Linked DNA regions of Homo sapiens: region 2 is linked to region 1. A link means that fine-mapping ties the variant in region 1 to the expression of a gene that starts in the linked region. Tissue or cell type: fibroblasts. Region 1 holds a variant in brackets; the other region holds the start of a gene. All regions are shown on one strand. Distances are between the middles of the regions.

Region 1 (16,651 bases):
TATGGGGAAAAGAGAACATTTTGACATCATTGATGGGAATATAAATTACTACAACCTCTGTGGAAAACAGCATGGAGATTTCTCAAAGAACTCAAAACAGAGCTACCATTTTACCCAGCAATTCCACTACTGGATATCTACACAAAGTAAAAGTTATTGCTATATTAAAAAGACATCTACATTTGTATGTTTATCACAGCACTATTTACAATAGCAAAATCATGGAATCAACCTAATTGTCCATTAACAGTTGACTGGATAAAGAAAATGTGGTATATATACACCATGGAATACCATGAAGCCATTAAAAAAACACGAAAACTTGTCCTTTGCAGCAACATGGATGGAGCTGGAGGCCATTATTCCAAGTAACTAACTCAGAAACAGAAAAATCAAATACCACATCTTCTCACTTATAAGTGGGAACTAAGAAATAGGTACACATAGCCACAAAGATGAAAATAATAGACACTGGAAACTCCAAAAGTAGGAAAGGTGGAAGGGCTGTGAGAAAATTATCTGTCAGGTATAATGTTCACTATTTGGGTAATGGGTACACTAGAAGCCTCAATCCCCAACATTATGCAATATACCCATGTAACAAACATGCACATGTACCTCTGAGTCTAAAATAAAATATTTCAAAAAGGGGCTTAAGGGGAGATGGACGAGGGAGAATCTCAGTGAATAGAGCCCTCTGAATTAACCTATAGTAGCACATTCATCTCTCAGTTAAAAAAAAACCAAATTACAAAAGGTGAAAAGATTTCACCAGAGATAAAGGGTAGGAGCGTGGATTCCACAGCTCCAATTATTTTCCATTCTTCTGTTATTTTCCTCAAAATTTAAATTCCCAGAAGGTAAAGCATGATTTGACTAGTATTAGTGACACGGCCAAGCTAGTTCCCTAGCCCAAGGAAGCTACAAGCTTTGTAGAAGGAATAATCACGAAAGGAAAATCAAGGCACCATTACCATGGAAGTGAGGATTAATGTTGGCCCAATGAAAAGTACAGATTCCCTCCTTTGGAATTACCCCATAAAGTTTGCTTTTCTATCTCATAGGACTTGAGTCCCAACAAGACAGCCTACATTACAGAAGGTGCAAATAACAGGAGAAAAATCAAGGTGCTATTACCAGGCAAGTGAAAATTGATATCGGTGTTATGAAAACAGCAGAGATTCCCTCTTTTGTGGATACACTGCAAAGTTTGGGTTTCTATCCCTTGGGATTTGGGAAATAAACAAAGCACATGGTTCCTTTGTGTTTTAGAAAAATATCTGTGATGGCAGAATACACATAGCTTGCAAGCTGTCAGGATTCAATCAAGGACAAACCAACATAGCTAGTTTCCTTAATATATAAGTAAAAAGCATATGAAAATGTATTCTCATAGATGTGATCCAAATTCCTCATACATGGACATAATCTTTAAGGTAACTAGTTTCTTAAATTAGTTACCTTAAATGTTTGGCTATATAATATGCAGTTTATATACATATACGTGTGTGTGTGTGTTCCATTTTTTTGTTATGAGCCTTTGTTATGTGACATCAGGAACAAATTTTCAAGTTTTGCAATGAAAGACAGAAATGACGAATTAGGCAATGAGATAAAGTACTGCCTAAAAGTAGTGTTAAACAACGTGGTTATTTATCAGTCAAACTAGAGCTGCATTCAGAAGAAATGTAAACTGAGAAGAAAAGAGACATGAAATAAATCGAGGTATCAAATTTTCAAGTTATTGTGGTTATCATAAGGAATCATATGTACTATACTGCCTTTGTATTTAGAGCAAAAGTAAAACTGCAAACTACTCATATTTTTAAAAATCACTTTCGGTGGAGAGCATCATAAAAAGAAAACAATTTATTGCTGGCTTGTAAAAAGGTAAATTAGTTTCACTGAGTTAGGCAAAACCTTCCTGGTTGTCCAATCTAATTGCACACTCACTTAAAATCAATCCTAATATCTCAAACCAAGGCAAGGGCATGGTCACTATTCCCTTCATTTCTTCTTTGTTTCTGACACTTCTTTGAAAATTCATCCCATGTTTTCATTTCCTTGTGTTATTTTTAAGTTAAAGATAATTAGGGTTAGGATATGTCAAAACAGTAAAATCACAGATCTCTTAAATTTAATATTAATTAATGTATAAAATCTATTTCAGTAGCCAATTGGCTTATAATTGAATAATACTGTTTACTACAGTTTCTAAAGTTACTAGCTTTTTGTTGGCTGTTCAGGTTATTATTTCTTGATATATCCATATATATATTTTATATATATCTTGACGAATATATATATATATTTCTAGTAGGCTTTTTTATTCTTAAAAGTTTCTGCTTATAGAACTGCTGAACTCATAGAGACCAGATAACAAGTTATGTTTGAATTATTTATCAAATTATTTCAAATAAGCTAATAGGATGGAGGGGGAAAGAATGATTGGGGGGAGCTGTAGTCCTGAGAGTAAAAAGCATTACCATTTTTGTTTGTATAACAGGTGGTGCACCCATGCATATAAATAAACCATGCTCAGGAATCAGTTCATACAGCATGCTGCTGACCTGCTTTTCTATTTTAGATCCCACATCATGACTACAATAGTCAGGTGAAATCCATTTAGTCTCTGCACAGGTCCATAAAAATATATGTGTCTCTGTAAAACTACAATAAGAGTAAGTTGAAAATCCTTACCCATGAAATGAGAACTATGTCTATTTTACTGTACAGTTATTAAAGATGTAACTGTACACAATAAACTATAAAATGCTGATCTGAAGGTGGTTATGAGAGTAGTTTTTGTGTTGAATTGCTTCTACTGTTGCTTCTTCTTGTCTCTTTTTTATTCACATGTAAATAACTGTTCCAGACTTCTCTAATCTTAGCTCTTACTACATATACCTATTAAAGGTTTTTAATCTTTTAAGTCTGCAATTTCTTGAAGGTTGTTTTTAAAACAATTTTATTGCTAAAGGATACTTTATCTGTGCCAGGAACTTTCTGTTCATACAATGTCTTTTGCTGTTTCCTTTTGATATATTACAAGAAAACGTTATTTTTATCTTATTATCAGTAAAATAATCCAGCTCACTCCACCTCTCAGAGTTAGATTACACATGTTGGCTGAATACTTTAATAAGTCTCCTTTAATAACAGATGAAGAAATAATAAGTATTTCACAGTACTTTCATAAGTTTCCTTGGAGGCTGGGAGGCTGAGCTCCAAAAAATGGTAGATAGAAAATATTGTAAACTTGAGATTAAGCTATATTGCTCTGCATAAAAAAAGAGCGATTATAGTGGCTGGAAAATTGATGGAAAGTGGAGGGAAAGAAAGAAAGTTTATGCGACTTGAAACCATTGATATAAGTTTTTAAAAGAAGCCTCATTTAGTGTGTTTGTGTGTATTCGTGTGCACTTAGGAGTAAAATTTTATGAGCTGCACAACGCAAACTACCTAATTTTTTCCTATGACATACTTTGTTAAAAACCATGTAGATCAGTAATTGGCTTATGCAGAAATTTGTATTTTAGAGTAATTTAAGAACATCTGTGTTGTGCTTCAGAGTTGGAATGAGACAAAAATAAAAGCTGCCTTTGGGTGGACGGTCATATCTGGTTATTTATAAAAACAGAGCAGCACTTAGTGGCATTTCGCTTTAGATCACACTAACCAGGACACATCTTTCACTGTGACAGCCAAACTCTCAAATTCAGGGTTCTGAATTGAACAACGGTCCTTTGTATATAATCTGAATGTCATAAGAAAGTCAAGGAAATGACTCTGAATTCCTATATTAGTTCTGTGGAAGCCAGAGGAATGCATTGTTTATGATACAATGTTTCACAAAGCATTTGTCAGCTAACTTGGGAGTATCCAAAAAACTCTTAAGAAGTCACAGACTAGGTATTGGCCTTCAACTCTGCTTTGAAAAACTCAAAATTTCTTAAGATTTTTCAGTATTCATTCAAAAGACAGCTGTGCTTTGGTTGATTCTGTGATCTGTTTTTTTCATCTGCTAAAATACGATTATATGGTTAGTTAAGAATATTTTGAAACTGATGACAGAAACTATGCGCTACATTGAAGGAAATGTGCCAGATATGAGAGAAACTGAGTTGTGGTGAGAACGTGCCACTGTATGAGAGGTGTCAGGCAGCAGACAGAGAAGCAATGGCATTTAATACATTTTTTTCAGGGTTAGCCATTAGGATTACCTATGTTCTCAAATTCTCAAATGCCTCTGTCAATGTTGCTGACAGCTCTTGAATGGCTTTTCAGTAATGAGGACGTTACCAGTGACTTATATGTCAAGTTTCTTACTAGATATCAGCATCAGAGAGAGAGGACTTGCACATGCATGTTAAGTTGTGAGATTTAAAAAAACAAACAGGGAGCAATACGACAAGGTAAAGTACGGCAGAGTATGGGAAATCAGAGCAGGCAGCACAAGGCTGACATTGATGCATAAAAACTCTTTCTGAAGAAATCTAGAAGAACAGCCCATGCTGTCACAGACAGTAGTGACCCCTCAGATTCTTAGTATTAATAGAGCTATTTTGGAGGCTCAAAAGCATAGGGCAGCATTGGCTGCTCTCAGACAACAAAACTGAGCAGAAAGTTTTCAACTGGATACATCATTTCATGTAAGAGAGCTGCTGAGGTTGTGCTCCTGACAAATAGATCCCATCAACTCAGTGCAGCAGCTTCTCCACTTCCAGCGAGAAAGCTAGGAAGCTTGGGGTCCTTCAAACACAAAGACTACTTTGATTTTAGTGTGAATAACTTTGTCCCCAATGATGTCTGGAAGCTACACCTCACACACAAGGCCATAAAAGGTCTCAGTCATAGGGCAGATACAGTGGCTCACACCTGTAATCCCACCACTTTGGGAGGCTGAGGTGGGTGGATCACCTGTGGTCAGGAGTTTGAGACCAGACTGGCCTACATGGTGAAACCCTGTCTCTACTAAAAACACAAAATTAGCCGAATGTGGTGGTGCATGCCTGTTAATTCCAGCTACTTGGGCGGCTGAGTCAGGAGAATTGCTTGAACTTGGGAGGCAGAGGCTGCAGTGATCCGAAACTGTGCCATTACACTCCAGCCTGGACAATAAGAGCAAAACTCTGTCTCAAAGAAAAAAAAAAAAAAAAGTCTCAGTCATATCTAAGAGATTAAGAAAAATACATATACCAACAATGAGATGGGTGTGTTGTGTCCGGAATTGGTGGGTTCTTGGTCTCGCTAACTTCAAGAATGAAGCCGCGGACCCTCGCGGTCAGTATTACAGTTCTTAAAGATGGTGTGTCTGGAGTTTGTTCCTTCAGATGTTCAGATGTGTCTGGAGTTTCTTCCTTCTGGTGGGTTTGTGGTCTCGCTGACTTCAGGAGTTCAGCTGCAGACCTTCAGGGTGTTACAGCTCTTAAAGTCGGCGGGTCTGGATTTGTTCGTTCCTTCCAGTGGGTTCACAGTCTCACTTGCCTCAGGAGTGAAGCTGCAGACCTCCGCGGTGAGTGCTACAGTTCATAAAGATGGTGCAGACCCAGTGACCAGCAGCAATATTTATTGCGAACAGTGAAAAGAACAAAGCTTCCACACCACGCAAAGGGAGCCAGGAGGTTGCTGCTATTGGCGCTGGTGGCCTGCTTTTATTCCCTTATCTGGCCCCACCCACATCCTGCTGATTGGTCCATTGTACAGAGAGCCGATTGGTCCATTTTACAGAGAGCTGATTAGTCCGTTTTACAGAGAGTTGATTGGTCCATTTTGACAGAGCGCTGATTGGTGCATTTACAAACCTTTAGCTAGACTGGAAAGTTCTCCAAGTCCCCACCTGACCCAGGGGCCTAGCTGGCTTCACCTCTCAATGGCACTCACTGTAGGACTTTGCGGCACCTAGCCCTCCAGCAGCCCACAGGGAGCTTGTCTCCTGACCAAGCCCAGCAGGCGCCAGCTGGCTGTGCTCAGTGCCCTCCTCCCGACGAGCCTGTGCCCACCCGGAACCCCTGCTCGCCCACGGCACACGCAGCCCCAACTCCCGCCCCGCGCCACATCTCCCCGTGAGCAGAGGGAGCCGGCTCCGGCCTCGGCCAGCCCCAGAGAGGGGCCCTCACAGCGCAGAGGTGGGCTGAAAGGCTCCTCGAGCACTGCCAGAGCGGACAGCGAGGCCTAGGAGGCACGAGAGCGAGAGAGGGCTGCTAGCACGTTGTCACCTATCAATGTTATGTTTCATTGTTAAGGTGATTTTTGTATTTATTGCTCAGTGAGGAAATAACCAGCAGTAAAGGTGCTATAGTTTGAGTAATCCTGGTCACAAGAGTTAGGAGTTGAGGGGATGGAATAGATGAACGAACCGTTTCCCTCCCAAAGACCCTGGATGCAATGCCATCTGCTGACAATATTGAATCTCTCTTTTGGTGTCAGGAACATAGGGAAAACCCTTATTCTTCATTTGGAGGAACTATGGAAAAAAACCAGGTTATGCATTCCTCCAGCTCACCTAAGCGACTTGCACATTCTAATGTTGCTGACTCTGGCCATCAAGAGTTATTTATTCATAAGGCGTCAAAGAAAATCTTGAAGCCTTCACTGATAGTGAAGAGAAAATCTCCCACCTGGCTAGGGTGGGGTGAAGAAGGTGCACAGAAGGAAAAGAAAGAAATTTACTCAATATTTAAATAAGTGAGATGAAGTAAGTAACACTTCCATAGGGGCCACTGAACAATGACTTAGACCCACATTCATAAAATAAGGAGCAAAGGAAGAGGGACAGGAAGCACTAAGTCTGGAGAGGGGCACAGCTACATGTGAGTATTTTCATTAGCATCA[T/C]CTCAGTGAGAATGTGTTCCATTTTGCAAGAGGTTAAAAACATTTGCTCACCGAAAGCTGGAACAATATGATTAAAAATCCAATTTTTAATCAGCTTATAGAAGGGTCTACCATAGTACTGGACACTGTGATGCATACCCAAATCCCTTTTCTTCAGGACAAAAGCATTCATCCCCCCAGATACTGATAATGGTAATGGTTGAAAGCCCAGAGCTAAGCCCCTCCTCCTGATAGTTGCTCTTGAATGAAGAAAGTCCCCTTATCCAAAGTCATATTATTTGTTTGGCATTGTCACATCCATATGTGAGAACACAGAACATGCATTACTTTTGCTGGAAGCAGAAGTGCTTCTTTCAACTATCTCATCTCTGGCTTTACTGTCAGCTTTGCAATCAACCTTTATAATTTGTTATGGATCTCTTGGTATTGTCATCTGGCTTTTTCAAGGTTGCCTAATTGGAGCAACTGGAGGAAGAAAGGAAGAAAGAAAAAAGCGAGGGTTTTTTTTTTTTTTTTTTTTTTTTTTTGTATTTGTCAATATCCCCCATCGATAGTGGCCCTTTCACGACCTTCCAACACATTTACAATCAATTCCCTGAGTTAAACTTTATTCTGTTTGAAATATCTATAATATAGTAGTTTTTATTTTTCTGAATGGATGTTGACTCAAAGTACTAAATATTCAGAGGGGATGGAAAAGCAATTATTTATGAGGTTAACTATCTTCCAAAAAGGCATTTGGTCTATTAGTGGATCTTGACTTTTTGTGACATTGTTGAAGTTTCCAATTTACCATCCTCAAAGAAATCACTTCACTTCTGAGTTGTTGTTTCCTCCGGTGTAAAATGAAGGGCTTAGACTTCCTATCCTTTAAGATGTTTTTTAACTTTAAATTTTATGAATCCAGAGAAAATGAAAGTATTGAATTCTCACTAATCCCTAAATTTTTTCATGTGTAAACATCAGACTCAAGAACCAATGGTAGAAAGATCAGATAGCAAAGGATTTACAAGTATAATTATTTGGGGGATGCTTGATATTTTAACGCATTTCAGCAAACAATATATCACACTATAAGTAATAAGAAATCCAGAAATGAACCATATTTTAAAGGTAACATAAAGTACTTTACAAATTCGGTCATAAGGGACTGCCACTTGTTTGTCACAAAAAGTAAAATGTAAGCTGTGCATTCTTTCCTGAAAGTCTAAAGCTAACAGAGTGTAGTACTGACACTACATTCTAAGACATTCCAAAAAGTCTTTCCTGAAAGTCTGAAGCTAACAGAGTATAGTACTGACAATATATTCTAAGACATTCCAAACAGACAAGTAATCTTGCAATAAACAGAAAATGGATCACTTGTCATAGTCAGTAACTGATGCAACTAATAATCAAGACATACATAGATGTCTTTTCATAGAAATGCCCTGCTATGTGAGTGTTAGCAACTGGAATATTAATATCTCAAAAAATACTATTGCTGTCATTTAAAGACATAGCAAAATGTGACTTAAATCTGAAATCTGTTTGGCATAGGTGTATTTTAGAGTCATAGAAGCTGTTGAGATCATGCTCACAGTTATATATCTAGTGAGAAATAATTTTTAGCTGTATAAATACAAGGTTTTACCCTCATCAACTATCTTTTGTCCAAACCATAATCATGCAAAATTACTGGTAGTGAGAGCTTTTGTTACTGGCATCCACAGAGTAATTTATAATGTTAGAAAGGCCTTTGCCATTTTCCTAATTGACGTTCTAAGTCGGGATTGCATTTGGATCTATCATTGTCACTTGGTTGTCACAGAGTCCAACATAAGCTGTGCATTTTAAATATAATTGCTATATATGCTGTTTCTTATGTTTCAGCAAAGCAGCAAACACACTTTTGAATTCATCATATGTCACGACAATGCATTCAAACCTTCAAATTAGTATTCAGAATTGGAGTGAATTATCTTGGAACTAAACAAAACAACCTTAAATAGAGGAAGTGGTATTACCTTAAAATGAATTGATCTTCAGTTTTATTTGAAAGCTGGCCATCAATCCATGCTAATTCTTATTTAAGCCATATCATACAAATTTTGAAATAAAGACTGTTTATAAAATATGAGGTTTTTAATAGTTGTTTCCTCAAATATTATCAACTATTGAACAACCTTTGCTGAGTATAGATAGAATGGAACTCTTTTAAATAATATGCAAAACTCAATTGTCACATATAATGCATTCTAAAATAATTCGAACTACATTAGAATATGAACAAACCATGCATAAAAATCACATATGTGCCTGTAATTCCAGCACTTTGGGAAGCCAAAGCAGGTGGATCGCATGAGTTCAGGAGTTCGAGACAAGCCTGGACACCATGACAAAACCCAATCTCTACAAAAAATAGAAAAATTAGCTGGGTGTGGTGGCACGTTCCTGTAGTCCCAGCTACCTGGGAAGCTGAGGTAAGACGATTGCTTGAGCTCAGGAGGCAGAGGCTGCAGTGAGCTGAGATTGCACCACTGCCCCTCCAGCCTCGGTGACAGAGCAAGACCCTGTCTCAAAAAAAAAAAAAAAAAACCACGTTAGGCATATAATTGGCATATTTACACATCACAAAATCTCCTACGTTTATCTTCCAATAAATTCTGAGTTCTAGAAACTAATTTTATATAAACTATAATGAAATATTCTGTTATATAATATACCTTATAGGCAAGATAAAAAAATTTATATCTCAGTGTATTAGTTATATATTACTAAAAAATTATTCCAATACCCATGGTACAATTTCTGATCATAAAATTATGTATTTAAAGAGGTATGTATACTTATTCAAGTGAATGAAACATTATTAGTCTACCTTGCTATGGAAACAAATTACATATTTTAATCTCAACAATTTATCAGAAATGGATCCAGTATAATATTTAGCAACAATGAATAAAACATTAAAGATATGTGTATAAAATATATGCAGACAAAATCTACTGAAGTATTGTTTTCAAATGTGCAAAATAGTTGATAAAACCTGCTCAAATGTTTGAAAAAAAGAAGTTTGAGGCCTAAAAACATTAGATCAAAGATAATAAATCATTTGTTTCTGGTTGTTAATTTGTATTAGCATATATGGGTTAAAGCCACAGTTATTTGAAGACGTTTCATAATGTGTTGTCTACAGATTTTCTCTAGGATCAAAATCTAACTTAAGAGCTTGACATTCCAGTAACAAGAAAACCCTATTCAGAAAGAAGGAGCAGGTCACAGAGCATAAAAGACAAAGCAAGGGGGCCTAAGAGGGGGTCCTCCAGTGCTCACTTTCCTCCTACCTCATTTCAAAACCCATAATTTTTCTCTGTACAAAGCCAAATGCTTTTTGGAAGTTTGCAGTTTAGCAGACTCATTTGTGAAGTAATTGTTTTCTTCAGCCTAACTAAAGCATATACTCTGTTGATGTTGAAAGATATGCTGTTTCCTATTATAAAATTTCTGTAACATGAGAAAGATATAGAATATATTTGTTTTTATTTACAGTGTAAATTTCTTTGCCTAAGAACTAAACAAAAGATTATGGTGTTTAAATTTCATTCTCTATTTCCTTTGAGGCTTTTCCCTTTGAAGATGTAACATCCATCCTCTCACCAGTATTTTTATTGTATAATTTGGGACTCTATTATATAGTAATATTTTTTCAATTATTTTGTCAACATCAGGCCCCAGTAAAACGGGACAGTTTCACCACCTTGTTCCGTTGCCTCCTTCATTTTACCTTCATGGAGGAAGACTGCTCTTTATCTGTCAAGTTCAAGGATTCAGATTAGGATTCAGAGCCTATGGAATGATGGTTATTATTGGAACTTCATATTCTCTAAGGTCTGAAGACATAACCAGGGTCTTAGACTACAGCCACTTCATGAAAGCACATTCACCTCTCTGTCTTTGTCACTTCCCCCCCGCCCCCCTCCTCTGACCATGCTCTGTCCCATGCGGCTGGGACACTCAGATGAACAGCTAGACTGCACTTCTGCTCAGGAGATGCCTCGTGAGAATGCTCAGAAGAAAGGCACTAGCCATGGAGCTGCTCTCTAGCCATAGGATTCTCTTGATCTTTTGTTTAACTTTTATCTGTAGATTTTTATTATCTTTCTTTCCTGCTAGAGCGATAGGATTCGTGTTTATTTTAGTTTGTGAGCTGAGAAGCCAACAAAAATTGAACCATTCAGTCTGCTTTGGTTCTAAGCCCTGGCTTGTTTTGAACCTAGGTAAAAAGAGTTCTCTAGATGTTTCCATCTACCTCACCACACGCTGCACAGAATTTGCTGGCCTGGCACACTGTTCTTCATGGTAATTGCTTTCTGAACTCCAGAAATGGGTACTTTTTAAAGGACAAGATTGTAGGCTTTTGATGTCTCCCTTTCTCCTTTCCTATTTTTCTTTCTCTGTTTTATAAATTTATGGCATTTATATTTATGTAAATATACTATATGTGTTTTATATATTTATATAAATATGCCTGCTATATTTAAATTGATCTATACATAAAAATGTAGATAGACAAAGATATAAATTAGATATAGATACAGCCCTTTTAAACAAATATTATCACATGTTCAAGAAGTTGAAGGCTTTGAATAGTGATAAATAGGATTCATATTAGTAGGCATCACAATATTTAAACATGTAAGGACATAAGTAGATATGAAATCTCATGTCTACTTTAACAAATGTAAATGTAAACAAAGAATATTTCAAAACCATAACAGCCATTGTATACTCATCATGCAAAGTAGATTGGGAAAAGATTATCCGTCAAGATGAGAACAAAGCACTCAGGATGGATTACTAAACCTCATGTAGAAACTAATGATGATGAAAGAGATCAACTGAAAACGTTTGACAATATGGTTTTCAGCTCAAGACTGCACTTAGGTACCCCCACCATAAAACTTTTCCCAGTGTTCTTCTCAGCAGAATTTGGAAACTCCCTTGACTTTGGAGCCTTCTTTTTGAAACTTCTTTTTGTTTTATATTAATCTAAGTAAACTATTTAGAGTCAGGATATCTTTGAACTATAATTTCTTCCTTGGAAATAGTGTAAAGATATCCACATATGTGTTGCTTAATAAATTATTTTTTTGAAGAATACCATTATTACTCACAATTACTTGAATAAAACAGATTTATGCCAATGGATCTTCAGAACAAAAAAATTAAAAAAAAAAAAACAGATTCATTCGTTCAACAATACTTATGAAGTGCCAGACACTGTTTAGACACTTGGGATATATGACTGAATTAAATATACAAGAATTCATTGTTCATATAGCTTACATTTCAGTAAGAAAGACAGATAATAAACAATAATCATAAAGATTTAATAAAACTAGGTTAAAATATGACAAGTGCAATGGAGAAAAGAAAAACCAGGAGAAGTTAAAGACCATGGAGAAGTGGGGACCTGGGTGTGGGGAGAAGAGACCACTCATGTAATGTCAGTCAAGGTAATAACCAACAGGAGGCAATGAACTTTTTGCCATGTGTAAATAGTGATGCAAATTTGGCAAATATACAAATTCCAGCTTTTTGGTTAACATAGAAACCACAGAAATGGCTGAAACAATAGCATGAAACCATTTGGTGTGAATAGTTTCAAATTAGAAAACTGAAGCAGAATTCCAGAATATAAAGGGTTTTTTTAAAATAAGAAAACTATAGCAAATGAGTATTCTACACTTTCCCCAAAATAGAAACTGAAGAGCAGACTGCTGTGCTGTTTTTCTAAGAAAGCTGACTACTATTATATCCCCCAATCACATGCCAGCTGAGCAATTTGTTTGTAGAAAAAAAAATTAGTGAATTTAATGCTTAGCAATCACCCATGGCAAAATCTTTTTGTTGTTGTTTTCTTTAAAAATGTCTTCACTATAAAAGAAAACACAATGCTATAATGCAGAGAAAATCTTAGAGTTAAATTTAAGATTATTACTGAAGATATCTTTTGAAGATGCCATTTAGTACAGGCTTAACAAATTGTTTTTTACTGAAAGCTCTTTGGTACAATTGAATGACTTTCCTTCTCCAATGCAACCATCAACTGCTTAAATCAATACTGAAGAAATTATTCTGTACAACACCACCTGGGCTACAGAGAGTAATTTTTCAATTATAGAACCATACATATTAGACACAATACAGAAAATATATACTAAGTGGGAAACAGATGTCCAGAAATCTGCCTCTGATTGGAGCACTAAACAGAGCAGAGAAATGGACTTTCAACTGCACATTACGTTGTGAAGGGGCTCACAGGCCCACAACATGGCAAAAAATTAAAGAGAACTTGGGGGAATAAATCTCTGTGTCTCTACTAGGGAACAGGAAACCAATGAGCTTTGACTGATAGGGCTGTGATTGTTGCATGATTTTGTGTGTAAATATGCCAAAAGATTGCTCAGCTGCCATAAAGCAGCATGTATAATAATGAGAGAATGTTAAAGAAGTTCATCATATTGAAAGTGTAATTTCATAGCAGAAAAGAGTTCTAGACAAAAATAAAAATATCTAGGATGACTTTCTCAACAAACTCTCTGGTCAACAAACAGTGAAGTCTTGGATTGTAACTATCTTTGATAAGAGGATTCTTATTAGATGACCTCTAGGATCTCTTATGTCTTGTAGAATCTATGATTATATAACATAACTTTTATATATGCATCTACAAAACAAACAACTTACAAATGCATCTACAGAACAAATGATTCCAGAGAAATAAAGTATTTTTAAACTGATGAATAAATAAATACCAATTAATTAGGCCCACTTTTTAAACTTGATCTTGTGTCTTTTTTAGAATTTAGCAGTTTATACACTATTATTTACTACTGCAAGAAGTGTCCAAGCATTTGAATGTTTGACAATAATAAGCGTTCCATGCTGATCATGACTCTGATTGTAATATATATTGTTATGGGGAAATTTGATTATTATATTTGCAACAAATGAAAAAAATGTGATTAAATAAAATCCTTTTAAAATTGCTATTGTTCGTTAAAAAAGAAAAGTAGAACAGAAATAAAATTGTATATTTAGTTCATTCCATAAAAATATTAGATGATTCTCCAGGGATGCAGAGAAATAGAATATTATAGTGTCTTTGCATTTGTTTTGTCATGTCTTTGCTTCTGTTTTCATATGTGTAAGGTTGGGTGGATAAGAGTGACTTCACATGTAGCTATAATAAGACCATTAGAAAGAATAAGTAAGAATACATATTAGCATGGGAAACTGTCATAATTAATGAATTTTCATTAAAATTGCTGTAGGCCATATTCTTTTTGAAAGTTACAATGTGACAGTCCTAAAGCCATTCTTTGATACAGTACAAGTTAGACATGAGAATTAGAGACTAAGTTGATTAGTCTCTTATTAACACACTGTGTTACACATTATTATTATTATTTATCACTCAAATTAACTTTCTCCACATTTATATGTATATTTAAAATGTTCTTATTAATACTTCTAATATAATCTAAGAATTAACATATTAATGCAAATTATTTAAAATAATTATATAAAAGTATGTATAATCATAAAACAAATGTAAGTATAATAATATATAAAATATTCCAATCATGAGTTTTGAAAAAGTAATAGAAAAAAGAAATTAACTAAAAACAGTTATCTCACTGCTACCATCACTTATATTCATGAACATCACATTATCACTTAACTTTTCAGAGCCCTTACAAAATTTTAACTTTTATTCCACAAATGCTGCCATTCTTAAAGTTCAGTGTTATTTACTATATTGAAGCATTCACAATCAACCAAGTACTGAAATTTTCTAATAACCGAATGACATTTCATTTAACCTTTTTAAATAAAATAGCATATAGAATTTATTTCCTTGAATTGATATACAAGGTGGGGCTAATCTTTACTTGAGCCAACAACCCAGAGATAATAATGTGACATATCAGATGCTTTATTAATAAAAATATTAGTTTACTATTGGGGAATATGAAGCCATGCCTTTTTTCAAAACAGTGTTCAATATTCAATTAAACATTACTAAAAACACATAACATGGTTACTTACTCAGCTAAAAAAGTTCTTATAAACTCTTCTTAGTTCTCAGCCAAAAATAAATACCTTAAAAATATTCAGCTTAATCATCAGGATATCATTGTGAGTATCCATAAAAGAAAAACATTGAATTAGTAAGACTATATTTAGATTCTATAACTAAAATTAATGTTCACCTATTAATCATGAGATTTGAGATTAATGCATTTTCTTATAGATTATTTTTACTTTGCCATAGAATAACTTGTGGTAGACCAAACCGCCCTCCAAGAACAACTAAAACAGTGGATAAAATATACTCAAAAATATATATGTGTTTGAAGGTGTCAGAGAGTTACCTCAGATAGGACTTGGGCAATCAAGATCATGGATACCAAGGAAACTCAATGAAGTGATCCTGACATCCCACCCCGCGTTTTTGTCAAGCCATTTGCCCCCAGTTATAAGCAGCAAGAAATAAGGAAGTGAAAGGCCCCAAGCAGAGATTTTGAAAGTTTCACAGGCCTAGAAAAACAATAATTGGATTTTAGGGCTACAGAACTGCCATGACATGAGGGAACAAGATCTAGGAGTGGCAGGAATCCAAAGAAGTGAATGTACCCTGAGCTGGTTCCCCATTTGAGAAACTGCCCAATTCCCTAGCCCTACAGATGAAACAGAAAACAGCAGCTAAGAAGCCGGGAAGCTGAGTAAACTTTGGCTGTCTTCCAGTGCCAGTAGAACAAGGTTCAGATTCCACCAATGAAGAGGGCCCACAAACACCTTAGATTCTTAAATGAGACTATTTCTAAGAAAAAGAAATTAGACCAAGCCTCGGGAAGAGTTAAATCCACTATTCAATCTGTCCAATCTTTAACTGAATCAAGATGATATTTTCTTAATCTATATACCTGCCACCAGCTAAGAAAATTCAAATAAATCAATGTTTAAAATATCCTCTCTGTTGAAAAAAATTCATTCAGATACTTTGTTTTTAATATTCAATGTTTCAAAAATTATCAAAACTAAATATTACCAGTAATAGGATATGGATTACTATATAAACATATTTGCTTGCTCTATCTGCTAAGCAAGCCGAAAAATATCACGATTCACTAGTGATGAACACACCCAGCACCAAGATTTTGCTTTTGAAAACCAATGAAAGGAATCAGGAGTCCTTAGAGACATGGCTGAATCTAAGACTGAAATAGAGAGCCTGGGACATATTACAGCATCAGAAACTAAGGAATTGCTAAAAATAAAAAGGACAGGGGTGGAGAGAGGGAATGCAGGAGGGTATGGGGCATCACAAGGGGACACAGGAGGCAACTGAAAGAGCTCCAATGGCCAAATCTGAAACAATTTGAGCAAGAAAACAGGTAAAGAGTAAAATGAATGGTTGAGTTAATAAATTGAAAGTGATAGGCAAATTTCCTATGTAAAAGAGTTCCTAGTAATCTATGCAGATAGTTATAAGTCAAGCATATACCCTTGATATGATGTGACGAGATGGCATTTACTGATGTGTTCTTTCTCCAAAAAACTGTAACCCAGACTAATAATAATAAAAAAACACATAAAGTCTAATATAATGAAATCCTGCAATATACCTGATCAGCATTCCTCAAATGTCAAATTATCAAAGTTATTAAAAACAAGAAAAGTGCAAGAAAATGTTACAGTCAAAAGGCACCTAAAAAGAGATAAGAACTAAATGTAAAGTGATATTCTGGATGGTAACCTGGATCAC
Region 2 (16,651 bases), 1.0 Mb after region 1:
ACAATAGCTGATGAGCCAAAAAAAAAAAAATCAAAATACAATCCATAATGTTTACGAATTTGTGTTGGGCTGCATTCTAAGCTGTCCTGGGCCACATGTAGTCCATGGGCCTTGGGTTGGACAAGCTTGCATAGGTTTCAAATTACTTCAAAATGTAATTTTATCTGGAAGATAAGAAGTAAAAGATAAAAGCAAAGTTACCATTGTTAAGAATTAGGTAGTGAGTACCTCAAACCTTTCTACTGGTTCCTTCTGCTTTTCCCCCCTAAGGTTTCTTTGAGCATTATTTGAAAATTACTGCAAAAAATAGTGACTAGACTTCCACAAGTAGGGAATAGTGCATGGCTGATCAGTCCAAAGACAGAATATAATTTTGGCTTTAATTGCATAAACAACTTTCGTTTCTTATTGCAATGACAAATTTGTTTTTTTTTTTAAACTTTATATCGCTTAAAGAACACTGACGTCAATCTAAGAATGCATAATATTTATAAAAATTAACCTAAAAAGTATAGTCCGTCCTGCCCAGTAGTTAACAGTCTAGTTTAAAACTAACATAAACTAGAGACAGATGATTCTCCCTCTGTAATCTTCTGAGATTTAACCCCCACAACCTTTCAATTTCTTTGTATTTGAACATGTGTTCATTAAGTAAAGACAACTTAATTGTCAATGTCCTTCACCTCTTGGGCTAGCGCTCCCCTCCTGGTCATTCTCTATTAACCTATACACTGCTCTATTTCTATTCTTACATGGCAATTACATGGCATTACATATTTGTTTATTGACTCCCTGAACCCAGCTAGAATGCCTATAAGTGATGGTTACTATTTATTTGTTGAGTGAATAATTTTTCTAGTCCCTGGATCTAACACTCTAGATTTTGTGCAGGAGAAATCTACTGTGTTCGTGGTATCATCATCTCATTTAACACTACATATCAGATCAATACAATGGCTAATAACAAAGATAATAAGCCCAGAAATTCCCTTCAATTTAGTTTATCAAGCATTTATTAAGCACTCATCTTATTTCAGGTACCATACCAGGTGCTGGGGAAATAATATATAATAAGTCTACAGGAGTTTGGGATGGTTCTCATGTAACTAATCAATGAGGTACCCGTTTCCAACATCAGTTGGTTCATTTTGCAGTCCAATTTAATTCAGTGGGATCCTTATACCAAAGTAAGTTTTAGATGAATCAAAGATTTAAACATAAAAATCAAAATCATATAAAAACAGGAAATAAAAAGAGAGTTAAATAAAATCTTATAGTAGTAAGGTAGGAGATGAGCTGGGCTTGTTTTCTGAGCACCAAGGTCCCACTGATTGAAACAGAATCTTATCAAAACAAGATGCAGCAAAGAAACTGGCCACAACCAGCTAAAACCAAGATGGCAACAAAAGTGATCTCTAGTTGCCCTCACTGCTCATTATACATTAATTATAATGCAGTAGCATGCAAAAAAAAACTCCCAACAGTGGCATGACAGTTTACAAATGCCATGGCAACTCCTAGAAGTTACCTTATATGGTTTAAAAAAGGGAGGAACTCTCAGTTCTGGGAACCCTTCCTACTTTTCTGGAAAATGCATGAATAACCCACCCCTTATTTAGCATATAACCAGGGAATTGTATGTATACAGCTGGCCAACAATTCATGGGAGCTGCTGCTCCTACTCTGTCTATGGAGCAGCCATTTTCCTGTAGTTTGTTGCTCTGATAAACTTGCTTTAGCTTGTGAATCCTTTCCTGCATGAAGCCAAGAACTCTCCTGGGCTGAGCCCCAAATCTGGGCTTTCCCTGCATTAGTAGAGAAAACCTTTTAAAATACAAACCAAAACCCAAACATTTTACTACATAAATATAGCAAAACTAACATGGATGCAGCTGGAGGCTATTATTCTAAGCAAATTCATGAAAGTACAGAAAACCAAATACCACATATTTTCACTTATAAGTGGAAATTAAACAGTAGGTACTCATGGACATAAAGATGGCAACAACAGACACTGGGGACTACTAGAGGGGGGAGGGAAGAAAGGGGCAAGGGTTGAAAAACTAACTACTGGGTACTATGCTCACTACCCAGGTGATAGGATCATTCGTACCTCAAATCTCAGCATCATGCAATATAACCATGTGACAAACCCGCACATATATACCCTGGATCTAAAATAAAAGTTGAATTTTTTTAATAATAGATAAATAATAGTAAAAAAGCAAAAACCTCCTTCCCAAGTTCCCTTTACTCCAAAAGCCTATCATTAACAAAATCAAAAGTCTGGGGAAAAGTATATGCAATTCATACTTGATACAAATAACTAATTTCTTTAATGCACAAAGAGCTCCTAGAAATCAATAAGGAAAAGACCAACACTCCAACAGAAAAGTGACCAAAAATTATGAACAGCCAGTTCACGGAGAGAAAATGCAAAATGTTCACTTATAATGACAGAAATGCAAACTAAAACCACAATAAATTACCATTTTTCACTTAGATTGGCAAGGATCAGAAAGTCTGACAACAAGCTGTGTTAATGAAGGCATTGAGAAAAAAATCATTTATTGCTAGTGAGGCATAATTGATATAGCCTCTGTGAAGAGCAATACGTCAATATCTATCAAAATAAAAATGCAACTATCCTTTGACAAAAATAAGTCTAGTTCTAGGAGTTACTATACCTGCACATATTCAAAATGACATAAGCGTTGAGGATATTTGTGGTAGCATTGTTCATAATAACAAAATGTTGGAAGCAACTTAAATACCCATCAGTAGAGGACTGGTAAAAAAAATTATGCTATACCATACAATGAAACACTGTATAACTGCTAAAATGAATGAGGCAGCTCTGAATTAACATCTATGCTAAAATATGTTGTGAAGTGAAAAAAAGCAAGGTGCATTTATTTAATAAAAAGGAAGCTTATTTGCATATATGCTTGTGAGGCATACACTATCTCAGGAAACATCCAAGAAACGAGTGGTAACAGTGGTTGCTTCCCTGAAGGGAATTATCTGCCTGCAGATATGGGAAGGAGGAAGGCTTCCTTTCAACTTCATCACTTTTTAAAAACCTATCTGCATTTTACACTATGACAGACATGCATTACTATTTTAAGGTAACTGAACAGTTTAAAATTATTTTTTGGCCGGGCGCGGTGGCTCACACCTGTAATCCCAGCACTTTGGGAGGCCAAGGCAGGCGGATCACAAGGTCAGGAGATCGAGACCATCCTGGCGAACATGGTGAAACCCCGTCTCTACTAAAAATACAAAAATTAGCTGGGCGTGGTGGCACGCGCCTGTAGTTCCAGCTACTCGGGAGGTTGAGGCAGAAGAATCGCTTGAACCCGGAGGCGGAGGTTGCAGTGAGCAGAGATCGCTCCACTGCACTCCAGCCTGGCAACAGAGCAAGACTCCGTCTCAAAAAAATATATATATTTTAAGTCTAATTTAAGGCCGGTTCTCTTAAAAAGAGTATGGTGGCTGCCTCTTCTCCCCTTTATATTATATATGCTGAACGTTTCCGAAAAGTCATAATGCATATTATCAAGATGATTACTGTCCTGCAATGCAATTTTAAGTTTGGCTGTTTAGACTTTCTTAATACAATATTTATTGTTACTCTGTATGTTTCTACTTTTAACCTCTATTCTTCAAATTGCTCTTAAAACAAGTTAAAAAAATAAATTTTCAATTGTTCTGATTGCTTTATCTTTACCTGGAAAGACCTCTAAAAGGAAACGAAGGAAGAGAAAGGAGACCGAACACTGGAGCATTAAGAACCCAGGAAAAGAAAAAATGTCCGCAAAGTTTAAAAGAAATAAGTTATGGTAAAGGTGTTTTCTCAACCAAATGATCTGCAAGGAAAATTTCCAAATTCCTCTGCTCAACAAAAATTTCTTTAGTTTTTCTACAATAATGATTTCTTTTCAGTTTCCATACCTCCCCGAGGCCCCGCCCATTTATCAGGGAAACGGAGAAATGAGGAAGTCAGCCTGAAAGGGGGAGTACGCTCACTTAGCAGGAGACAGCTGAAAAGTAAAATACTTTTCAGTATTTTCCAGAGATCAAGCGAAAAACAAGACCTGGCGACGACGAAAGGAATGTCAGAGAGAAGAGGGAACAACTAGAGAACACAGACCACGAAGCTTTTCTCAAACACTGGCTTCTTCTTTTCAGCCGAGGTCACAGGAGAGGGCTCGGCTTTAGGCTCCACCCAGCTGCCTACACGTTCTGGGGGAGGGGCTTAGAACACTGAAGCTAAGACGCTTGATTTTTCTAGGAAAGAAAGATGTTGAAGGGCCACACATGAACAACTGAAGACTTCTAATCGTTCCACTAAAGTATGAGTGGTTTCCTAGAAGAAGGAAGGGTGATTCAGAAATATAAATACTGTGCAATAATTTGAAAATCAACTGTAAATCATTAAGATTACAATATAACATGTACAGAAATATTTCATTTAATACAACTAAAGGCTAACTGGCCATATAAGCAAAAACTATAAATTATATTATACCAGCTATAAACTATATTATACTATATTCCTGGGGAGGCATGTTCATAGCAGTTAACAATTGTGAAATTAGAACCATACTGCCTGGGTTCAAATCTCAACTCAGGCACTTGCCAGCTGTGTGATCTGTTCTGATCCTTGCTTAAACTTCTAACTTTGTATTCTTCCTGGTACTTTGCACATAGTACTGGGTGCTCAATGTCAATTGATCAACCAAATGAATGTTAGTGAAATGTCACTAATTTTCAATCTATACAACTTTAGGGGTTTTCTTTATTGCAGAAAAGTCATATAAAAACATTAAATGGTGGCTTGACAAGAGTTACACACAAACTACATACATTTCTGCTTGTCATTCCTTGTATTCAATTTATACTAATAGATACTTTTCATGAACATCCACTGAATTCTTTCATTCCTTCCATCAGATATTTAATCAACTCTGTGTTCCAGGTATTATGATGGAGCCTGGAGACAAACTACAAAACATGACAGATAATGCAGGAAGGAGCATGAAGTAAGTACTAAGGTGGCACCTACCTTGGGAGAAGTGGATAAAGAACTCAGGAGATGTGAAAAGGAGGAACATGAGAGGGGATCCTTTAAGGATAAGTGAAATCATCACAATTTTGTTTCCTAATGATGAAACTTATGTTGAAAATACTCCATTAAAATTCAACTACTAAAATCTTGTAACCACAAACACAAACGCAAAAACAAAAAACTATCATGATCATAATTATGATCATGTAAGCTAAAAAATTCGAGTGCAGACATAAAAGTTTTCACCTGAGATATTCACTTTATGTAAATACCACTCATCAGTTATAGCCAGAAGGTATTTGCTTCCATCCAGTTTGGGTGTAAGCGTAGAGTTAAGTCTATAATTATTTATTTGATGCCAAGTAGAAATACGACAATATACAAGGTTCAAATGTGGGAGAAGTTACAAGCAAGTCCTTGGAGAGTCAGTGAGATGTTTATGAAGAAAGAGTCATATACTGAACTTCAAAAACGAGTTGGACCTTGCACACTCAATTTTCCCTTAGCTATAACGTTTATACAAAAAGTTTTTGTGTAAACGTTATAGCTACTAAAAATCAGAACAAGTTCAATTATCACCAACTCAAAGCTGGATTAGACCTTTTCAATGATTATTAAGCTACACATCCATATTTAACAGCTAGTCTTTAGAGGAAGGGACCATCTCATTCTATTAACAGTGAGTATTGAGTAAGGCCTTCAGATGCCTAACTGCATATATTTGAATACATTTTTAAAATTTCTTAACACATATCGCTAAGGTTACTTTGTTTATATGACATTATGAGTACGGGACAACAAAACTCTTAAGCCGTTAAACAGAAAGCCAAATCAAGCTGCATCTATGACATGCCTGTTTAGTGAAACTTTACTTCAGTCCATAAAAATACAATTTATTAAAAGCACAAAACTAGTGGCTAGCTTCAAGTTAACATTTTTGTTGCTAGTGGTGAGATTTCCTCTAATGTTAAATGATTTTTTTTAAAAAAATACGTTTTAAGTCCAGACAAAATTAATTTTCAAAAATGAAAATTGTAATCTATCCACAAATGTAAGTTTTACCGTTTTGTTTTTTGCAAAAAAAAGTACCTTTTATCTTTCCTTATATTTGAGGAAACAAGCTTATCTTTGAAGAAGTAGCTGCTGAATTTGCAAGATCTTTTGAGTACTTCTAACTACACGCTTTATTACTACACAGTTAAATATTTAAACAACAGTTGTCTCCTTTGTCTAAAGACCCACAAAGACCGAGAAGGTACTTACCTTCTTGAGATGACCAAATCCAAACCTAGAACTCCTCCAGAGGTACAGCCTTGGTGGGAGATTCTGAAGACGCCAGTCTGGCTTCTATCCCTAGCCGCAGGAACCTGCATCTTTTACTTAGTCCAGAAAGGCTTAGTATATTAGTAACCCAAAGATAGTGAGGGCATTTAAACTGTGTATTTCATTCTCTACTCACGTTTGCATTTTGGTTTTTTGTTTGTTTGTTTGTTTGTTTTAAAGAGGTTGGGCCTCACTACCTGGAGACACTGTCCCACCAGTTTGGCCGCCGCGCCAAGCCGGTGGCTCAGCCCGCTGTCATCCAGGTTCTCACGACTCCTCCCATTGCTTGACAGCCAGCCAATAGCGTGCTAGGACTCTAGGACGCGCGATGGCGTAAGCTCCAACGCCCGCGTGATGACGCAAGAGGCGCCACCGTCTCCAAGGAGTGGTCCGGGGCACCGGTTTCAAAGTCGCAGGGCGGGCCGAGTGGACTTCCGCTGCTGGCCTGGGGCTTCCCAGCCGTCTTGGCGTTGTCCTCTCCAACCCCCGCCGCTCCGCGTAGAACGCCGCTCTCAGGCTGCCGTCAAGCTCCCGCGGCACTCTCCTAGGTGGCCCGACGAGACCCAGAGTGACCCGCGGGACGCCTGTATCGACCGCGTCCTCTTCCCACCAGCGTGGGATTCGGTTGAACGTGGAGTCCCCAGCAATCTTCAGTCTCTCACCAGGGCCAGGGACTCGTCTGGGGCGCGGGGGAAAGAAGCGTGGCGGGGCTGTAGATGCCGCGTGAGTAGGATGCAGATTGCACCGCTGGAGCGCTTGACAACCAACCGAGCGTTGGCTTAGTTTTGTTTTCCCGCACAGCAAGCTCTCTGTCTTTCAGAGGAAGGTAAAGGTGGTGAAAGCTCTAAACTAAAATTGTATCGAAATGGCTGCAGAAATCGACTTTCTGAGAGAGCAAAGTAAGCTCCATGTTTTTTTGAGACTTCATATACAATGTTTAATATCGTCGTCGTTGACCGACAAATCTTTTTTGAATGCTGGTTGGGTACATTTAAATTGGTAAAGAGTTAAAGAAGTTAGTTGCAGGAAAAAAAAAACCTTGATGTTATACGTGAGGATGTGTGTATATTTAAGCAGAACCGTGTGGTAGTACTTGTAGCTTACACAGAATTCTACTAGACGCTAAACATGTTTGTTATGCTCCTCTCGTGCTCTGAAGATTAGAAGGCTAATGGCCAGCAGGAGTTTCCAAGTGTGCATTTAAAATCTAGGGGCACAGCTCTCTGGCCATTTATTAAAAAGATGTTTATTGAACTCCTGTTTCTATTATGTACCAGACACTATGGAAGAACAGCTGCTGCAAAGATAAACAGGACAGTTTTTACCTCCAAGAATTTAATTTGGGGAGGGAAATGTATTCCAAAATATATTGAAGTGACAGCAACTGCTGGCTCTTTTGCCACAGTCTCATAGGGTTGTTGGAAAGATTAAATGAATATTAAAATATGTAAAGGATTTAGAATAGTATCTGATACATTGTGTTAAACAAATATTAACTATTACACGATTATTATTAAAATATGTTCAAGGAAGGTGCTATTGGGCTGAAACGTGCAGTACAAATATGAATTTACTATATGAAAAACTCTAGGCATCCCAAATAGAACAATATTTGTGACACTGAGGGGATTAGGAATATGCTTTGTTAAAGACTTGCAATACGGCTGGTTTGAGTGTAATATTGATGTAAATTGAATTGGAATATTTATATAGGGAAATGGCAAGTGCAGTTGAAGGCGTAGAAAGGGGCTGGATGGTGAAGGGCCCTGTCTTCTCTGTGCTAAGGAGTATGGACCATTGCATGGGTTATAGGAATTCAGTTGAGAGTGGCATGATCAAATTGTAGTTTAGAAGGCCCGGTCTGATTTTTACGGGGAATATGCATTATAGCAGAGTGCAGTTAGTTGTCTACTGTCATCATTCAGGTAAGAAGTAAACTAAGTTGGGCACAGGGAGACTGGAGATCAGGGGATTTGAGAGAAAGAGGTAGAGAGCAACTTAGTTTTTGCTTGAGCAACGGGGAAGTTAGGAAAAAGGTAGTAAGTTCCGTTTTGGTAGCATTATAGACCAGTGGTTAAGAACTCAGTCAGCCTCTGGATTTAGTCTGTCTGGGCTCACAGCCTACCTCTTTCCAGGTCTGTGACCTCGAGCAAGTTTCCTAGCTTTTCTGCACCTCAGTTTTCTCATTTATATAATGAGTATAAGAACACAAGAATCCTCTTGAAGTTGTGAGACTTAAATGAGATGATGAAAAAGCATTGAGCATAGTGTCTGGCACATATTAAGTGCATGGTATATGTTATCTAAAATAATTAATGACACTATAATGACACAATAACATTAGCATTATTTCTTAGGTTTGCAGTGGGAATATCCCCACCCCATAAGAACAGCTAACTGGCCACCGTAAGAGTAGTGTGGGACAGGAATTGGTTGATGAGGAGTTTGGCTAGAGTCAGGATAGTACTTGAGGTGGTCAGAAACTATTAATTTTATAAGAATGATCCAGCCAGAATTCTTAGATAAAACTGAGATCCAAATACCAGGGGAAAACAAATAAGACAACTGAAGCATAGTAACATTTTTTTAAAAATGAGTGGTATTTAATAGTTCCATGGAAGACAAGTGGAGTGCAAGAAGGAAATCTCAAGCAGAAGGAGCAGAAGAAGGAATGGTTCAAAGGCTTAAAATAACTGATTTTATTCAGGAAATCGGAGCATAGAATGGTAGCGTTTGCATGAAGAGATAAGAATGAGAGTTGAGTGTCTGTGTCGCTCTCCTTTTTTCTTTAACCGGATTTTGCATGCCATTTGAAGGTGGTGGGTTATTCCATTAAGTGACCCACCTAAATACCAGCCCAGATAAAGATAGATCACTTGCCTTCTTTCCACCTGCCTCTGACTTTTTCTACACTGATTTCTGTTGATCTTGATTGTCTCTTTGTTCCGTTTGGATTTGGGAGCCCAGGTCAAGACCATTTGTTTTGGTACTTCTCAACTCATGTTTTGGTACTTCTCAACTCATGTTTGGTACTTCTCAACTCTCATGTCCCCACATGACATTTCCTCTGATAATTACTATTTCAGCTTTACATATCATAACGACAGGCAGCTCCACACTCAACCAGGCTACTAGTAGAGTAAGCTTGTAGCATATTTGCTGTGCACCGTTCTTCCACCTTTGTCTGGGAAAGATCAGTTAGTTTTTAGGAACCTGTTCAAAGAGGTACTTGCATTATCAATCTAAGGAACTAAGAATTCATTCATTAGTGGGGTGTGAGACTCACTGGCAGAGTGGTGATGGACTTATTTTTTCTTTTCATTCTCTTAATAGTGTTGGAGCCAAACATTTTTAATTTTGATGAAATTTAATTCATCAATTTGTTCTTTTATGAATTGTGTTTTTGGTGTCATAAAAGAAATCATTGCCTAACCCAAGGCTGCAAAGATTTCTTCTATATTTTCTTCTAGGAGTTTTATAGTTTTAGGTTTTACATTTAGATCTATGGTTCATACAGTTAAATTTTATACAAGGGATGAGGTAAGGATCCAGGCCACTTTCTTGCATTGGATGCCCAAATGGAAAAACTACCCTTTCTCCATTGAATTACCTTTGCTCCTTTGCAGTTGTTTATATATGTATGGATCTATTAATGAACTCTATTCTTTTCCACTGATTTATTTGTCTGTCTGGACACCAGTACCCCACTGTCTTAATTATTGCAGCTTTATAGTAAGTTTTAAAATAAAATTGGTTCTTCTGTACATCATTGATGTATCTTTTTAAATTTTCTCAGCTATACTTTGTAGTTTTTAATATTTAGGTTTTGCACATCTTTTGTTAGATTTATGCCTATGTATTGAAATTTTTGATACTACTGTAAATGGTATTATTCTTTTACTTTCAGTTTCTGATTTTTCGTTGCTAGTATGTAGAAATAACATTTCTTTTTTATTATTATACTTTAAGTTCTGGGGTACATGTGCAGAACGTGCAGTTTTGTTACATAGGTATACTCATGCCATGGTGGTTTGCTGCACCCATCAACCCGTCACCTGCATTAGGTATTTCTCCTAATGCTATCCCTCCCTTAGTCCCCCACTCCCCAACAGGCCCCGGTGTGTGGTGTTCCCCTCCCTGTGTCCACGTGTTCTCCTTGTTCAGCTCCCACTTATGAGTGAGAATATGCGGTGTTTGGTGTTCTGTTCTTGTGATAGTTTGCTGAGAATGATGGTTTCCAGCTTCATCCATGTCCCAGCAAAGGACATGAACTTATATTTTTCTATGGCTGCATAATAGTCCATGGTGTATATGTGCCACATTTCCTTTATCCAGTCTATCATTGATGGACATTTGGGTTTGTTCCAAGTCTTTGCTGTTGTGAATAGTGCCGCATTAAACATACATGTGCATGTGTCTTTATGGTAGAATGATTTCTGATTATTTGGGTATATACCCAGTAATGGGATTGCTGGGTCAAATGGTATTTCTGGTTCTAGATCCTTGAGGAATCGCCACACTGTCTTCCACAATGGTTGAACTAATTTACACTCCCACCAACGGTGTAAAAGCAAAAGCATTCCTATTTCTCCACATCCTCTCCAGCATCTGTTGTTTCCTGACTTTTTGATGATTGCCATTCTAACTGGTGTGAGATGGTATCTCATTGTGGTTTTGATTTGCATTTCTCTAATAACCAGTGATGATGAGCATTTTTTCATGTGTTTGTTGGCTGCATAAATATATTCTTTTGAGAAGTGTTTGTTTATATCCTTTGCCCACTTTTTGATGGGATCGTTTGCTTTTCTCTTGTAAATTTGCTTAAGTTCTTTGTAGATTGTGGGTAGGATCTGACCTTTGTCAGATGGATAAATTGCAAAAATTTTCTTCCATTCTGTAGGTTGTCTGTTCATTCTGATGATGGTTTCTTTTGCTGTGTAGAAGCTCTTCAGTTTAATTAGACCCTATTTGTCAGTTTTGGCTTTTTTTGCCATTGCTTTTGGTGTTTTAGACATTAAGTCTTTGCCCATGCCTGTGTCCTGAATGGTATTGCCTAGGTTTTCTTCTAGGGTTTTTATAGTTTTAGGTCTTACATTTAAGTGTTTAATCCATCTTGAGTTGATTTTTGTATGAGGTGTAAGGAAAGGGTCCAGTTTCAGTTTTCTGCATATGGCTAGCCAGTTTTCCCAGCACCATTTATTAAATAGGGAATCTTTTCCCCATTGCTTGTTTGTGTCAGGTTTGTCAAAGATCAGATGGCTGTAGATGTGTGGTGAGAAATAACGTTCTTTAATATTCTGCTCTGCAGCCTTGCCAAACTCATTCATTAGCTCTAGTAGTTTTGTAGAGTCTGTCAGTAGTTTTATGTAGATAATCTTGTAATCTGAAAATAAAAAGTTTTATTTCTTTTCAATTTGGATGCCTTTCATTTCTTTTTCTCACCTTATTGCAGTGGCTAGAATCTCTGGTACAGTATTGAACAGAAGTGGTGGGAATACACATCCATATCCTGTTCCTGATCTTATGGGGAAGGCATTTGTCTTTCAGAATTAGGTATGATACTAGTTGTAGGTTTTTCATAGACGTTCTTATGTTGAGAATGTTCCTTTCTATTCTTAATTTGCTGAGAGTTTTTATCAAAATGGATGCTGGATTTTTAAAAATGCTGTTCTGCATCCATTGAGATTAAAAGATATTTTTTCATTTTTTGTTTGTTAATAGAGTAAATTACATTGATTAATTTCAAATGTTAAAACCACCTTGCCTTTCTGGGATAAATTCCACTTGCTCATGATGTATAATCCTTTTTCTATATTGTTGAATTTTATTTTATAAATGTTTGTTTAAAATTTTAGTGTGTTCAGCTTTTTTTTTTTCTTTTTGGGACGGGATCTTCCTCTATTGCCCAGGCTGGAGTGCAGTGGCACAATCACGGCTCTTTGCAGCCTCAACCTCCTGGGCTCAAGCGATCCTTCTGCCTCAGCCTCCTGAGAAGCTGGGACTACAGGCACATGCCACCATATCTGGCTAATTTTTTTTTCTTTTTGTAGAGATAGGGTCTCCCTATGTTTCCCAGGCTGGTCTTGAACTCCTGGGCTCAAGTGATCCTCTTGCCTCCCAAAGTGCTAGGATTATAGGCATGAGCTATCATGCCCAACCTATGAAGGTTTTTTGCTTTTCTTTTTTTTTCTTCCTTTTTTTTTTTTTTTTTTTAACTTGCGCAAGGGTCTCACTGTCACCCAGGCTGGAGTTAATGGTACACTAGTAGCTCACTACAACCTTGAACTCCTAGGCTGAAGCCCTCCACCTGCCTCACCCTCTTGAGTAGCTAGGACTACAGGCATGTGCCACTGCACCTGGCTAATATTTTTATTTTTTATTTTTTGTAGAAGCCGGGTCTCCCTTTGTCACCCAGGCTGGTCTTGAACTCCTGGCTTTAGGCAATCCTCCCACCTCAGCCTCTTAAAGTGCCTTTTTTTTTTTCCTTCCCAATATTTTTGTCTGGTTTTAGTATCAGGTAATGCCAGCCTCATAGAATTACTTGGAAAATATTTTGTACTCTTCAACTTTCTGTAAGAGTATGTATAAAATGATATTATTTCTTCCTTGAATATTTGATAGAATTCACCAGTGAAGCCAACTGGACCTGAAGTTTTCTTTGTGGAAAGGTTTTAAAATACAAACTTAATTTCTTTAATAAATAAAGAGCTATTCAGTACTCTGTATTGTACTCGAGAAGAACCTCTGCAGGTCTCACATTCCCTAGGGTTCTTTCTCTGTGCAGTCTTCTATCCTTTGTCCTGCCAATTCTAGTTCACTTAATCTCCACTACTTCTCAGCTCCACCTCTTAATAAGAGTCCAGTGGTCTCCACTTGCATTTCCTCCCCCCGTGTCATGGCCCTGGAAAGTCTCTTAAGTCATTAAGGTGGGGCAATCATAGGGCTTACCTCATTTGTTTCTTGTCTCTGATTATCATTGTCTGATGTCTAGTGTACTATAAGGTATTGATGATTTTTTTGCTTGCTTTTTCATGTGTGTCAGGCAGAAAAGTGGTCCATGTTATTTCTTCTTGAGTATAAGCAGAAGTCCTATTCAAGTTGCCCTACTTTTTGATGTCTTAAACTCAAGTATCTTACTCCTACTATAACTGTTCTTTGACCTCCTCATCCTTTGAGCCCTTCATTTTCTTTACCACCTTGACTGCTTCCCAGTTTGTTTTTACTGGTGTCTTTTACAGGCTGTAACCATTGCCCATTAGTCCTTCTGCGCTTGTCAGTAATCTTAATATGATTATACCCCTGCTTTTCTATAGCTGATGCCCAGTAACACCTCATGCCATGATTGGTTGGTTTGCCTTTACAGTTCTCATACCAAATGCTGTTTAGTACCTATAGATAGCTGAACCCTCTGGATAAGTGCCTTCACAAAGTCAAGGTTAACAGAGCTAGTAAGTGACTGAGCTGGGATTTGAACCCAGGCAGTCTAGTTTCAGTGTCTCTTTTCTTAACTGCTACACAAAAAGCATACTTGCAAGAAAGGAAAACTGTAAACCTGTTTCACTTATGCATGTTGGAACTAAAATCCAAAATAAAATATTAGTAAATTGAAACTAACAATGAATGTGTGTGTGTATATATATATATATATATATATACATACATACACCAGCATCTTCAGGTATCCAGGAAACGCAAATTAAACAAGCCAGATAAGTACTTGTAGAATGAAGGAAATAATAACATTTAAGTTACAGTAAAATTTTCTCCAGATTATAGTCAATCTATGAAGATTGAAAGTGTTTCCCTCATTATTAATACATAATTTACTTCTTATCCTATTTTAATTACTGAGGACACAGATCTAGTTTTTTTCTTAATTGAAAACTCTGTCAGGGAAAAAAAAAGAGGTTTGTATTGTGATTAATTTTTTGTTTTAAGTTTTTCTTTTTTTAAAATTTATCTTTTAAGTTCAGGGGTACATGTGCAGGTTTGTTATATAGGTAAACTTGTGTCATGGGCATTTGTTGTGCAGATTATTTTGTCACCCAGGTATTAAGCCTAATACCCATTAGTTGCTTGTCCTGATCCTCTCCCTCCTCCCACCCTTCACCCTCCAATAGGCCACCGTGTGTGTTGGTCCCCTCCATGTGTTCTCATCATTTACCTCCCACTTATAATTGAGAACATGCCGTACTTGGTTTTCTGTTCCTGCATTAGTTTGCTAAGGATAATGGTCTCCAGCTCCATCCATGTTCCTGCAAAGGAGATGATCTCGTTCTTCTTTATGGCTGCATAGTATTCCATGGTATACATGTACCACATTTTCTTTAGCCAGACCACCATTGATAGGCATTAAGGTTGATTTCATGTCTTTACTCTTGTGGATAGTGTTGCAATGGACATACATGCTCATGTGTCTTTGTGGTAGAATGATTTATATTCCTTTGGGTGTATACTCAGTAATGGGATTAAAGGGTCGAATGGTATTTCTGTCTTTAGGTGTTTGAGGAATCGCCACACTGTCTTCCACAATGGTTGAACTAATTTACATTCCCACCAAAATGTATAAATGTTCCTTTTTCTCCACAACTTCACCAGCATCTGTTATTTTTTGACTTTTTAATAATAGCCATTCTAACTGGTGTGAGGTAGTATCTCACTGTGGTTTTGATTTACATTTCTCTAATGATCAGTGATGTTGAGCTTTTTTTTGTATGCTTGCTGACCGCATATATGTCTTCTTTTAAAAGGTGTCTGTTCATGAGCTTTGCCCACTTTTTAATGGGATTTTTTTCTTGTAAATTTGTTCAAGTTCCTTATAGATGCTGACTATTAGACCTTTGTCAGATACACAGTTTGCAGAAATTTTCTCCCACTTTGCAGCATGTCTGTTCACTCTGTGGATAGTTTCCTTTGCTGTGCCAAAGCTCCTTATTTTAATTAGTTTCCATTTGTAATTTTTGCTTTTGTTGCAATTGCTTTTGGCATTTTTGTCATGAAACCTTTGCCTACTCCTGTGTCCAGATGGTGTTGCTTAGGTTGTCTTCCGGGGTTTTTATAGTTTGGGGTTTTACATTTAAGTCTTTAATTCGTCTTGAGTTATTATTTATATATTGTGTAAGCAAGGAGTCCAGTTTCAGTCTTTTTTCATATGGCTTGCCGGTTATCCGAGCACCATTTAAAGTAGGGAATTCTTTCCTCATTGCTTGTTTTTGTCAGGTTTGTTGAAGATCAGATAGTTGTAGGTATGTGGCCTTAATTCTGGGTTCACTATTATGTTCCATTGGCCTATGTGTCTGTTTTTTGCACCAGTACCATGCTGTTTTGGTTACTGTGGCCCTGTAGTGTAGTTCTAAGTTAGGAAACATGATGCCTCCAGGTGTGTTCTTTTTGCTTAGGATTGCTTTGGCTATTCAGTCTCTTTTTTGGTTTCATATGAATTTTAAAGTTTTTTCCAGAGAAACGTTTCATAGTTTTCTGTGTAGAGGTCTTAAACATCTTCTGTTGTATTTATTACTGGGCATTTATTTTTTTTTATGGTACTATAAATAGCATCTTTTACTGTTTTCTAACTTTATGCTGCCAGTATCTAGAAATATAATTAATTTTTATATATTGACCTTGTATCCAACAACTTTGTTAATCTTCATGATTGATTTTTAAGTATGTATCTGTGGTTTTTTTGGATTAATCACATATGCACTCATAACTATGAATAATGACAGTTGTTTCATCTTTTCCAGCCTTTGTGTCTTTTAGGTCTTTTACTTGCTTTACTGCATTAACTTAGACCTCCAATAGAGTGTTGAGTAAATGTCATAAGAATTTATCCTTATGTGATTCCTAATTCAAGGGAAAGTTTTCAACATTTTTACTCATGAGTATGATGTTTGTTGTGTATTTTACGTAAGCATTCATTATAATAACAGTGTTCCCTTCTAGTCTTACTTTGATAAGGCTTTATCATGAATATATCTTGAATTTCATCAGGTGCTTTTTTAAAATAACTTTTGAGATGATCATATTTCTTATCATTTTTTGTGAGTTTATTTTCAATTTCTTTATTTTCTGGGCTTATCTTTATTTACTCCACTTGGCTTTCTTTGGATTTAATTTGGTGCTGTTTTTCTAACTTCTTGGAATGCATTTGTAACTTCAGACTTTTTCTCTAGTATATGCAATTAAAGCTACAGATTTCTCTTTAAGCAAGTTTGGAGGTATCACATTTTCACTATTGTTCACTTCAAAATACTTTAA

The links. PIP is the estimated chance that this variant, and not a neighbour inherited with it, causes the effect.
Region 2: C4orf33 starts here. The variant in region 1 is fine-mapped to the expression of C4orf33 in fibroblasts (GTEx, PIP 0.96).

Annotation. Positions count from the first base shown.
Region 1 is chr4:130,079,987-130,096,637 of GRCh38, reverse strand. No RefSeq gene overlaps it. Among named protein-coding and RNA genes, the nearest start is that of LINC02479, 290 kb to the left of the region's middle. The variant T/C (reference allele first, on the strand shown) is at 6,835.
Region 2 is chr4:129,083,712-129,100,362 of GRCh38, reverse strand. It overlaps C4orf33 (chromosome 4 open reading frame 33), which reads right to left and starts at 4,211. Exons shown (of 6, transcript NM_001099783.2): 1 at 4,154-4,211. It overlaps SCLT1 (sodium channel and clathrin linker 1), which reads left to right and starts at 6,824. Exons shown (of 21, transcript NM_144643.4): 1 at 6,824-7,293. The coding sequence starts at 7,260. RefSeq lists an enhancer at 6,560-7,129.